Regions from separate parts of the Homo sapiens genome. Here region 1 is linked to region 2. The links come from fine-mapping of genetic effects on gene expression. A gene starts in region 2. The other region holds a variant in brackets. All regions are shown on one strand. Distances are between the middles of the regions.

What was found.
Region 1: its variant is fine-mapped to the expression of ZBTB44-DT in testis (GTEx, PIP above 0.99).

What each region holds. Positions count from the first base shown.
Region 1 is chr11:130,401,069-130,406,442 of GRCh38, forward strand. It overlaps ADAMTS8 (ADAM metallopeptidase with thrombospondin type 1 motif 8), which reads right to left. Exons shown (of 9, transcript NM_007037.6): 9 at 3,855-5,060. The coding sequence ends at 4,490. ZBTB44-DT (ZBTB44 divergent transcript) reads left to right here. Exons shown (of 7, transcript NR_148980.1): 6 at 1-19; 7 at 2,233-2,589. Among named protein-coding and RNA genes, the nearest start is that of ADAMTS8, 25 kb to the right of the region's middle. The variant A/T (reference allele first, on the strand shown) is at 2,267.
Region 2 is chr11:130,311,975-130,317,348 of GRCh38, forward strand. It overlaps ZBTB44-DT (ZBTB44 divergent transcript), which reads left to right and starts at 3,019. Exons shown (of 7, transcript NR_148980.1): 1 at 3,019-3,141. It overlaps ZBTB44 (zinc finger and BTB domain containing 44), which reads right to left and starts at 2,943. Exons shown (of 8, transcript NM_001301098.2): 1 at 2,401-2,943. RefSeq lists enhancers at 2,097-2,146, 3,307-3,406, 3,577-3,676 and silencers at 2,237-3,066, 3,977-4,036.

The DNA of each region.
Region 1 (5,374 bases), 89 kb after region 2:
ATGTTTGGAATGAGGAACGGTGAGGTCTGGGGAAGGCTTCTTTCCTCTCTCCTTTCCTGGGGCGATTCGCATCTGCCAGGGCTGGGCTGGGCAGCTCTGGGGGCTGGAAGGCCAGCCGGAACCTTCCTGTCTCTTTCTACTGAGCCCCAGGCCTGAGGGAAAGTATGTTCTAAAGAGACAGGTGGCTTTCTTGCTCTCTGCTTGTCATTACGGTTCAGAATGCACTTGTGCACTGGTGTCATGTCTCTTCCCAGTACTTGAGCAGTGGCTGTGATGAGTCCCTTGATCTATTTCAGGGGGTGTGGGCTGGCCGGCACTCAGTTTTAAGCAAGTCCTGCTCTTTCCAAAGTGGAAGGTCAGAAAAACTCCCCACCTGAAGAAGAACGAGCCAGGGAAGTGTGGTACCAGCTGTTTAGGACCACACCTATTGGTTACGTCTGGCCAGGTCATTCTGCAGTGTTGACCTGGAAAGCACACAGGTGCTTAGGAGGGGCTGGCCAGGGGCAGGGAAAGTGTGGGAGTCACAGCCCACCCACTCCGTTCGCGGGACCCTCCAGTTTTTACTGTTGCTCGTTGTGTTCTCCTGTGTTGTTTAGAATGTTGTCATATGTACGGTCAATACAACCACAGTATTTGTCGCATTAGTGATCACCAACATTGAGCCAATGAAGACGCTGGCTTAGATGGGTGACTTCTTCTTTCCCACATTCCACATGCAGCTCTCCCAATGCGAGCTCAGCGGAGGCCCCCAGAAAAACGTGGGGAGGAGAGTTTTCCCCATAAGACAGACTGTCCTTCAGCCCCGGCCACCAAAGAGGAGTAACCCGGGCCTGCTGTTCTCTGGGACTGAATGCGGCTGCATCCTTCCCTTCCTCTGCTTCCTGTCCCGGTACTTACTGACGGTGCACATGCGGGGCTTGGGGAAGCTGAGTGTCTAACCGCGGTGCAGCTACGGATGGGAAATTCTGGGCAGGGACGAGCCTGTCTTCACCTGAGGAATTCCCTCCCACATCACACAGGGCAGAGTGGGAGTGGAGGAGGGCAGAGGACACGTCTCAGGGCCAGTAACCTAGGCTTATAGAAGACGTCATCACCGTCCTCATGATGTTCACCCCGTCTCCTGTTTTTTGGGGCCATGTGTTCCGAAATGTAGCTTCAACTCATCATAGGGGCAAAAAGAAGTGATGAGTCTGTGGCAGCAGAAATCTGGGAATCCAAGGGTCGTGCTACATCTAGTCCTCTTTGATAAATTCTGCCTTCCTGTTCACATTTTTCGAGAAACCATTTTGAATTCCCAAACAGCAAAGGAAATGCTGCAGGTTCCTGGAGGGACCTGGTGATCTGGGGCAGAGCACACGGAGTCGAGATTGCTGCGGGGTTCACGAGCCTCCCCTCCTGGGACCAGGGGCACCTGGGCAGGGTAGTCTGCACCACGCAGGAAAGCCCAGTACACGCAGCTGCTCAACGCTGCAGACGCCATAGCGCAGGGCTGACAAGGCCTCCCTCTTTATCTGCCCTGGACCACAAGTGGAAAATATCAAGACAAAGCAAAAGCCAGTATCCCTTAAGAACTTTCCAATTGTTCTTGTCATTTGTAGTTTTGTTTTTTGGGGGGTGTGGGGAGGGAGGGGTGGTTTGAAACAACTCCGGAGCACACTCCAGAGGAAAACAGGAAGGGTGACATGTTTGGACACCAGAAAAGAGGAAGAGTCCTCACTAAGAGGGTGACTTGGTTAAAAAGTTCAAGCACAAAGGATGTAGAAGCAGGTGGATGTCATCAGAGAACAGATGCGGATCTAGTGAGATGGGTCCTACCACCCCTGGAATATGTTCCTGGGAGAGGGGTGGTCTGCTAGAGTGGACTGGGAATAGTAATATTGCATACTTTTGTAAATTCACAAAACCCTCTGATCTGTGATAGAGGAATAAAGGGCAGAGGATAAACCCCAGATAAAGATTCACTTATCTTAAAAATGAAAGGTTGGAAATTAACTTTATGCTACTGTACCACCTTCGAAGTATTTCTGGCAGGTGCCTGGAGGATTCAGATTAATGACCAAATTACCTGCCAAGTCAGGGCCTCCCATTAGAAGAGAGTACCAGTTTCCATTAGGAGCACTAGCTGGAAAACACAATCTTTCAGCAGAGGAAATACAGTCTTCTCTCCTTCTCTGGGTGCACAGAGTGGTCGTGGTTGGCTGGGGCAGATAATGGTGTGGTCTTCCTCTGCAGATCTGGTTTCTGAGTCCCTGGGCTGCAGCTGTTG[A/T]ATTTCCAGACACAAACAAGTATGCGTTCTGAGAGCCTCGCCGAGCCCACACAACCGGGAGAGCCAAGCTGGATTCCATTCTGCTTTGCACATCAGCAGCTCTGCTGCCAGCTGAACTCCAGGGCAAAAGCTGTGCCTGGTAATGATGCAGGCAGCAGGGATGGCACAGCTGGCCTGGCTTAGGCCGTTAAGGGGGACACGCTTGGCCTTATTTGGGGGAGAGCGAGAAATGGAAGGCGATGAAGAGTTGCGGAAGCATACATCAGCCTCCACAAAACTGGTGCACAGCAGGGAAACAATCTGGTTTTGCTAGTCATCAACAACATGCCTGTGTGTGTGCCTGTTTATGCTTAGGTAAGCCCAGCCTCCCACTCGCTGAAAAGAGTAGGCAGACAAGAAGGAGTGACCAACTCTGAGTCAGCTGTCATCGTGTAGAGAGCAGCTAAGGGGAACAGTGGGGCTGGAATCTCATGGCCTTGCCTAGTGCCCCTACAGCATCCTCTCTGCCCATGGTGCCAGATATCTGAATGGGAGGACAAAGGGGGCACAGGTGGTGAAAAAAACCAAGATGCACATTTGGGTATTTTCCTTCTTTTGCTAGAATGTCATTTCTTGATGTCTGTTTCTTGTCACCCATTTGTGATCAGGGACTAAGTAAGTTCCCTCTGCACCAGACCAGGTGGAAGACTGAGCCAGAGTTCCTCTGAGCCACAGGAGAGATGAGGAGCTATGGAGCGGAGTAGGGGCTGAGGATCTGGTGCCCCCAGCTAAACTAAAAGGAGGCAGGCAGCATGTAAGAGGATGATGGGGTAGCTCACAGAGAGGAAGGGGATATTCTTTCTCAAGAATGATGAGCCCAAAGGCATCGCATAACAATTGTGATCTCCCAGCTGGACGTTTCCTGTAGCACAGGTGTTCACAGTGTGGCTCCCAAACCAGCAGCCTCCATGTCAGTCACTGGGAACTTGTTAGAAATGCAGATTCTCAGGCCACCCCAACCATTAGATCAGAAACTCTGGGGATGGGGCCCCACAATCTGTGTTTTCTTTTCTTTCTTTCTTTCTTTTTTTTTTTTTTTGAGACAGGGTCTCACTGTGTCATCCAGGCTGGAGTGCAGTGGCATGAAAATGGCTCACTGCAGCCTCAACCTCCTGGGCTCAAGTGACCCTCCCACCTCAGCCTCCTGAGTAGCTGGGACTACAGGCCTGTACCACCATGACCGACTGATTTCGTTTTTTAATTTTTTATAGAAACAGGGTCTCGCCATATTGTCATGGCTGGTCTTGAACTCCTGGGCTCAGGCAATCCTCCTGCCTCAGCCTCCCAAAGTGCTGGAATGACAGGTGTGAGCCACTGTGCCCAGCCTCACAATCCATTTTCACAGCCCTCTACGTGATCCTAATGAAACCTTGGGAACCACTGGTCTAGATCCTGCAAATGAAAGTTGCCCGAATGAGCTGGATTCTGCAGGCCTGTGAGGACCCAGAGCAGGCAGGGATCCAGCTGCTGACCTAGTTTCAGCCTCCATCCCTGGGTTCTAGGTTGCTGCCCTTTCCAAAGAAACAATGAATCAGACCAGACCACTGCATTGGCATAAGATCACACTTTAGTTCAGAGACACATTTGCATAAATACTTGAAATGGATCCACCCCTGCAGGTGGCAGCCTGAGAACATGTGGCTCTCCAAACCCTGCGACGCTGCGGCCCTTTAGGTGATGGATTTTAACACTGAAGACAGTCGTGGTCATTCTTGAAGACAGCTTGGGGTCCAGCTTTGGAGCCTGCTTTGACATTCACCATTGACTCCCTGCCCCACGCCTCTCTTGTACTAATTTTTTCCCCTGTGAGGTAGATTATTTATCGGGGAAACCAGATAGAATTTTTTTTTTCATTTAAGTTTGCTAGTCCTTTGCAAACAGACTGACGCTGAGTGTCCTGTCTGAGTCAATAAGTGCACTTTTACCTTTTAACCTATGCCCTCTACTTGAACCCGAGCAAGGTCCAGTCCACTGGACAGTTGATGATAGGGTCTGCCGCCCCATACCCTCTCCTCTTCCCCCTTAGGAATTTGTGCAGTACTGGAGGGGTTGCGGCAATGGGAGGCCTGGGTGGGCCGTGCTGCCTTGATATGGCCAAGGGACCCAGTCACCACAGTGGAGACCCTTGTCTGCACCTCAGTACCGCATGTCCAGGAGCACAAGACTGGCCCCTGCCCCCCTGAATCACAGGGGGCACAGCTGGCTTTCGCAGGGCTTGGCATCCTCGGGTTTCAGAGCCTTGTTGCAGGTGGCAGAGGCCTGGCCGGAGGGGTCCCTGCACTCTACAGTTCGCCTCTGCCAGCCGGCCCCGCAGGTGCTAGAGCACTCAGACCAGTCCCCCAGCACCCACTGTGCGTGGAGCAGCGGCTGGATGATGTTGGTGGTTGCTCTCTCTTTGCTGCTCTGCATGCTAAAGTCCACGTCATTAGGAACAAAGAAGGTGTATTTGACTTTTGGGGGGAAGACCTCGCCAGGGACTGTCAGGAGCTGCACTGTCAGAGGCTCTGGCAAGGGCCGGAAGCTCTGCAGGCGCTCCAGGGTGGCGATGGAGCCGCTGTACTTCAGGATGGTCCCCTTCACCAAGATGTCCTGCTCTATGGCAGAGATGGCCAGGTTGCCGTTGAGCAGGTACTGCCCATCAGCCGTCTTCAGCGCCAGGTAGTTCCCATCGTTCTGCACACCCGGGTGGCTCCGCTGCTTCACGTCAATATTAGTGGCACCAGCTGGGATGGTGACAATGTCATTGTAGCCATAACTGTGATAGAAACAGAAGGACACCCTTAGACCAGTGGCTGCCCAGCCCAGGTCACGATGATGCCTTGGAGACTGAAGTGGGCACCCCAGGTGGCAGACACGAAAAAAACAAAGCAAGTAATTAAGCAAGTTGCCTCAAAGTTCTCAATAAATTAGCTGTTTAGGCAGACAGAAATGTCTGTACATTGGGATTTTCAAGGGTGTTTGCTTCATCTGGCAACTCTATTTCAAAAGTGTGGTTGAGGAGTTGAGGTATGTGGGTGTTGAGAACAGCATAGAGACGAGGAGAACCCAGAAGGATGTGGAAAGCTGCAC
Region 2 (5,374 bases):
AAATTAAAACCCATGAGAGTCTGAAGTGGTATCATTCACCCCTGCCCCAAAAAACATCATTGGGGGTGGCTATTTCTCCAGCTCTTTACTATGAATATTGAAAAGTAAAGAGATTAAATTTAACATTTAATTTGCATTTTGGGGAAGAACAATAGTTTACCTGCACTTAATGAAGGAAATCTCTTCCTTACAGAGAACCTCCAATAACTGATTTAAGCAAAAGTCATCATGGGTGCTAAAAACCACTAAGCAAAAGATTGTCAGAAACTGGGTATTTGCTTAGTGTCCAAGTTTTACCCCAAGATTACATATTAATCACAAACTGGCAAACCACACCTTTACAACAGATCAGTAGTCAGCACTTTAATCAAATGGTTACATTTAGCATCATTAATAGTGTGGGAATCTGACATTGTGTGCCTCCTATATTATGCAACAGGAGGTACACAGCATCACCTATTAAATATTCTTGCCAAAGGAAGTTTTACTTTAAGCTAATTAAGCCTTCCTTTACACCTAACTTCCAGTTAATAGGAAATTCAGGGAGAAAGAGGAATAAACGAAATGACATTAGGAGGGCACAAATCCAGAATGTGGGTATATTTTACAAGACAACTGGTTTGGTCAATTACGTGTCAGAAAAAAAGAAGGGAGGGAATATTCATCCTATTTAATTTCCCCTGCAAAAAGAAGAGGGGATGGATACTCTTCATTTTACAAAATGACTAAAGACTTAATCACCAAATGCAATCAATGCATGAATCTTGACTGACTACAACTGGGGGCAGAACCCTCAAAGACACTTTGGAACAACTGAGGAATTTTGAAGATGGAGTTGTTAATTTTGATAGGCATTAATAATGATACTGGGGTTAGTAGGAGAATGTCCCTATTTTTAGGAAACACATGCCGAAATATTTGAGGATTACAGTGTTTGCAGCTTACTTTCAAATAATTACACACATACAGAGAAAGACAGGAAACAATATGGCAAAAATGCTAATCACTGAGTTGGTTATTCATTGCATTGATTAGCATTTTTATTCATTGCATGAATAACCGATCACAATTGTATAGAACGAACCTCTATACGACTAAAATTTTTCATAACAAAGTTAATAAAATTGTACTTCTATTGAGAAGTACGGTAGAAAGTACACGAAAGTACATCTATACTGGAATTATATTTGGGTTGAAATCTAAACTATCTTACTAGTTGTGTGCCCTAAGGCAAGTTGTAATTCTTCGTATCACTAAGTTTGTCACTTCTATAAAATTCAAGTAATAATATCTGCATCATTAGGTTGTTCTGAGAATTAAATAATTACAAATGCAAAAATGCCAAGCAGTACTGCACAAAATGAATAATCTGGTTTTCATAATTAATCAGTACATTACTAATAATCCTAAAATACAAAACTAAAGGACTACGTTCATTATATTCACATTCTATGATAAGGGGAAACTACATTAGGTAAAATTATTATTAATCCACTGACAGTCCAAGTGAAGTAATGGGGGAAATGAAGATTTATACAGTATTTTTTAAACCCAAGAATTCCAACTGAACACCTAGAGAAAAGGAAATCAAAATCGTGCAGCTTGCTTCCGGTATCAGCCGATCTCCAAATAAAGCATTAAGAAAATAAGTGGAAGTTATGGAGAATTTCTTCCTGACTTCAAGAGATTATCTACTTACACGCTGAAAAAGAAATTAAGTTTTTGTCTTCATTTTTGTAAGTTCCAAAAAAAAGCACACAATTACGGGGTTTTATTGTAAATTCTGCTTGGATTCATAGAACTCACATGGACGCAATTTCCTTTTAATCAGTTCTAACGTACCTGTCATTTCTCGAGGTAACCCCTTTTTCTGATTAGGCCAGCAATAAAACGACTAGATGCAGAGTGATCCTCAGGAAGGAAAGGAAAAGAGGTGTGTGTGTGTGTGTATGTGTGTGTGTGTTTGTGTGTGTGTATATATATATATATATATTTTTTTAAAGAAGTGCCATCTTTTTCTTTCTGTACCAGAGAAAAAGCAGAAGGGGAAAGGAGGAAAAAAAACAGGTCTGAGCCTCCCGGGTTCGACCAGGTGAGAGGTGGCAACACTCCGGCCGCTCCGGGTTAGGGTGTTGGGCAAATGGGCGTGCAAAGGACGGGCAGCTCCCTGGAAGGTCGGGGTAACTGCTCCGGGACCGCGGGGCCCAAGGCCGGTCTCCTCCCAGAAGGATTAAATGCCACCGAGGGGATCCCGTGGGGTGTCTCCCGGCGCGGACTAGGCTGACAGACCCGGCTCTCCGCTCCCTTCGGCGCCAGGTGGGGGCCACGCGGTGTCAGCCACGGGCAGCGTGCAGGGGCCGTCCCCCGCGCGACCGGAGCCCGCCCTCCCCTCCCCGTTACCTGCGGGCGGCGGCGCCGGGCCCGGAGGCCTGCTGCTCCTCCTCCTTCTCCCGCCAGGCTGGGGCGGCGAGGCGGCGGCGGCGGCGGCCCGGGGGGAGGGGGCGGAGCGCGGCTCGCTGCCTCTCTCCTCCCCCGGGAGGCTCAGGGGCCCCTATCTCGGGCCGCCGCGCCTAGGCCCGTGAGCAGCCTGTGGTGGGGCATGGCGGCACAGCCACCGGCGTGCCCGCGAGTGGGAGTGCGAGGAGGCGGGGAGGGAAGCACCCCCAGCGCTCGGAGGGGCCAGAGGGGAGGAGCGAGGGGGCCCGGGAGCCGCGCGCTGGCGACCGTTGGGGACGGTTGGCCGAGGGCAGGCGGTTGTTTGGGGAGCGCGGCGACGGCTCGCGTGTTCCCAGCGGGGCGGGGTGGGGAAGGGGAAGGGGACTGAGGGGAGGGGAGGGGGAGGTTGGGAGGGAGCCGCCGCCGCGCGCGTGCGGCCGGCGCCGCCGCCGTTGCCGCTCCGCTCACTCCAGCCTGTTTGGGGGCACTTTGTTTGTGTCCCACAATGCTCTGCGCCGGCGGCCTGGCTGGGGAAGGGGAGGAGAAGGGGGCGGGGCGGAGCGCGCTCGGGGGCGGGGCTCGGGGCGGGGAAGGAAACGTGATGATTGCGCAAGCGCAGAAAATGGGCCCTCTTGGCCGTCGGGACTTGTACTGTTGGTGACTCCGTCTCCTTAGACGGTGGAGCCTGCGTGACCCAGAAAGGCCGTGAGTCTTGACACTGTATTTTTGCATATGTGCGCACATGTGCCGATTTACATTCACATGCCCCATAAGCCCTGTCCCATTTGTCCTTCCTCTAAGCCGTCCTCTTACCCAGTTCCCCTCTCACACCTGAGAAGCATTTCTCCGCAGGAGTCACATTTATAGCATTATTTTTTTCTTCGAACTAAAAACATAACTCCTATTTTCTCGGGTAGTTTTTGTAGGGAGGTCGAAATAGAAACACTTCAGCCCCTCTTCGGCGAGGGAGGTTAGTTGGTAAGGTGCCCATTGTTCACCCATGGAAACAGGCCTGCCAAGGGCCGCCCCGCAGACAGGTGAGCCCGCGCCCCCGTCCTGGGCGGACTGCGACATGCGGCGGGTGTCTGGATTGCGTGGCTCCTCGGGCCTCCTCGCAGTGCTTGCTCTCTTCCGTTCTAGCACTTGCCTCGGTGACCTGGCAGGACGTGCGGTTCTTGAGATGAGTGGAGAAACGGACTCCCAGGTCCCTCTCGTTCTTCCAACACAGGGACAGCTAGAGCTGCTCCAAAAATATACCCTACTTCTTCCACAACCGTGAATCTGTCATTTTTACTGCACCATCACTTACTTCCTGGCCTTCCCGGAGGAAGTGTGCGGGCCTCCCCGAAGTAACCGGTACCGCCCGGGGGGTTTTGAAGTTCTTGGTCAACTGCAAAATCAATCAACCTAGTTAACTCCTAGGGCCCTAAGTCTTGGCTTCCCCTGGCCAGGCGGGCGAGCGCTCTCCACACCGCCCCCGGAGGTCATAGGGGTTCCCGGGACTGCAGGCGGCAGCGCCCCAGGTGCCTGGGGGCGGGCGGGGTGCGGGCAGGTGCTCCTTGGGCGCTTTCTGTTTTCCCACGCCTCCAGTTTGCAAACCGAAAGACTTCTTTCCAGAGGGTTTTGTGCAAGGTGGGTGGACGTCCCGCTGAAGTAGAGTGGATTTTCCTTTTGAAACACTTGGCAACATCTCACATTAATTCACTCTGAGAGACAAGCAGCCAAGCACCTGAACACCCTGACACTTGCAATCTTCTTTAGGAATAAAGGCAATAAAAACAACTTCTGTTTTTATAGTCCTTCGCAGTTTCCAACAAGTTTTCAAGCATGTATAATGTTATCTAATCCTTACGGCAACTGTAATTCACAGGTTTTATCACAGGTTTCTATTATTATTCCCACTATCATTCTTATTATTCCCATTTCAGAGATGAGAAAAATCAGAAAGATGCGAACTAGGCCCAGAAACTTTTGCACTAAGTTTTGAAGAGGGGAAGGGAAAGAAGGCGGAATGCTTACCTGGGAGAGGACTGGCGGCCACAGAGCAGGGCTCAGGAAAGGGCATGAGCTGGGGCCCTGGTGAGGAATGTGTGAGAATGTATGTAGGTGGTAAGCAACTGGACAAGAATCAGGGTGGAAATGAAGTAGTCAAATCCTATCTACCTCTCCTAGTGCCTTTAACAGGATAGTCAATAAAAGACCATGAGGCAAGTCTTTTCTAAGTGCTTCTCCAGGGGCTGTGGTGGCAGCTCCTCAACTACTACACTGACACAAAAATTTGCTTTCCTTTGTAGTACAACTTGAAGTCAGGTAGAGGAATGCCTCTAGCTTTGTTATTTTTGCTCAGAATTGCCCTAGCTTTTCAGGGTCTTTTGTGGTTCCATACAAATTTTAGGATTTTTTTTTCTAGTTCTGTGATGAGTGTCATTGATATTTTGGTAGGGATTGTACTGTACCTGTAGGTGGCTTTGGGTAGTGTGGATATTTTAACAATATTAATTCTTTCAATTCATGAGCGTGAGATATCTTTCCTTTTTTTTTTTTTTTTTTTTTTGTTCTCTTCATTTTCTTTCATCAATGTGTACACTTTTCCGGGTAGAGATTTTTCACTTCCTTGCTTACATTTATTGCTAGGTATTTTATTTTGCTTTTTTGTAGCTATTGTGAATGAGATTGTTTTCTTGATTTCTTTTTCAGATTGATGGCTGTTAGCATATAGAAAATCAACTGTGCTGGGTGTGGTGGCTCACGCCTGTAATCCCAACACTTTGGGAGTCCAAGGCAGGCAGATCACGAGGTCAGGAGTTCAAGACCAGCCTGGCCAACATAGTGAAACCCCATCTCTACTAAAAATACAAAAAAGTTAGCTGGGAATGGTGGCACGCGCCCGTAGTCCCAGCTACTTGGGAGGCTGAGGTGGGGAATCACTTGAACCCAG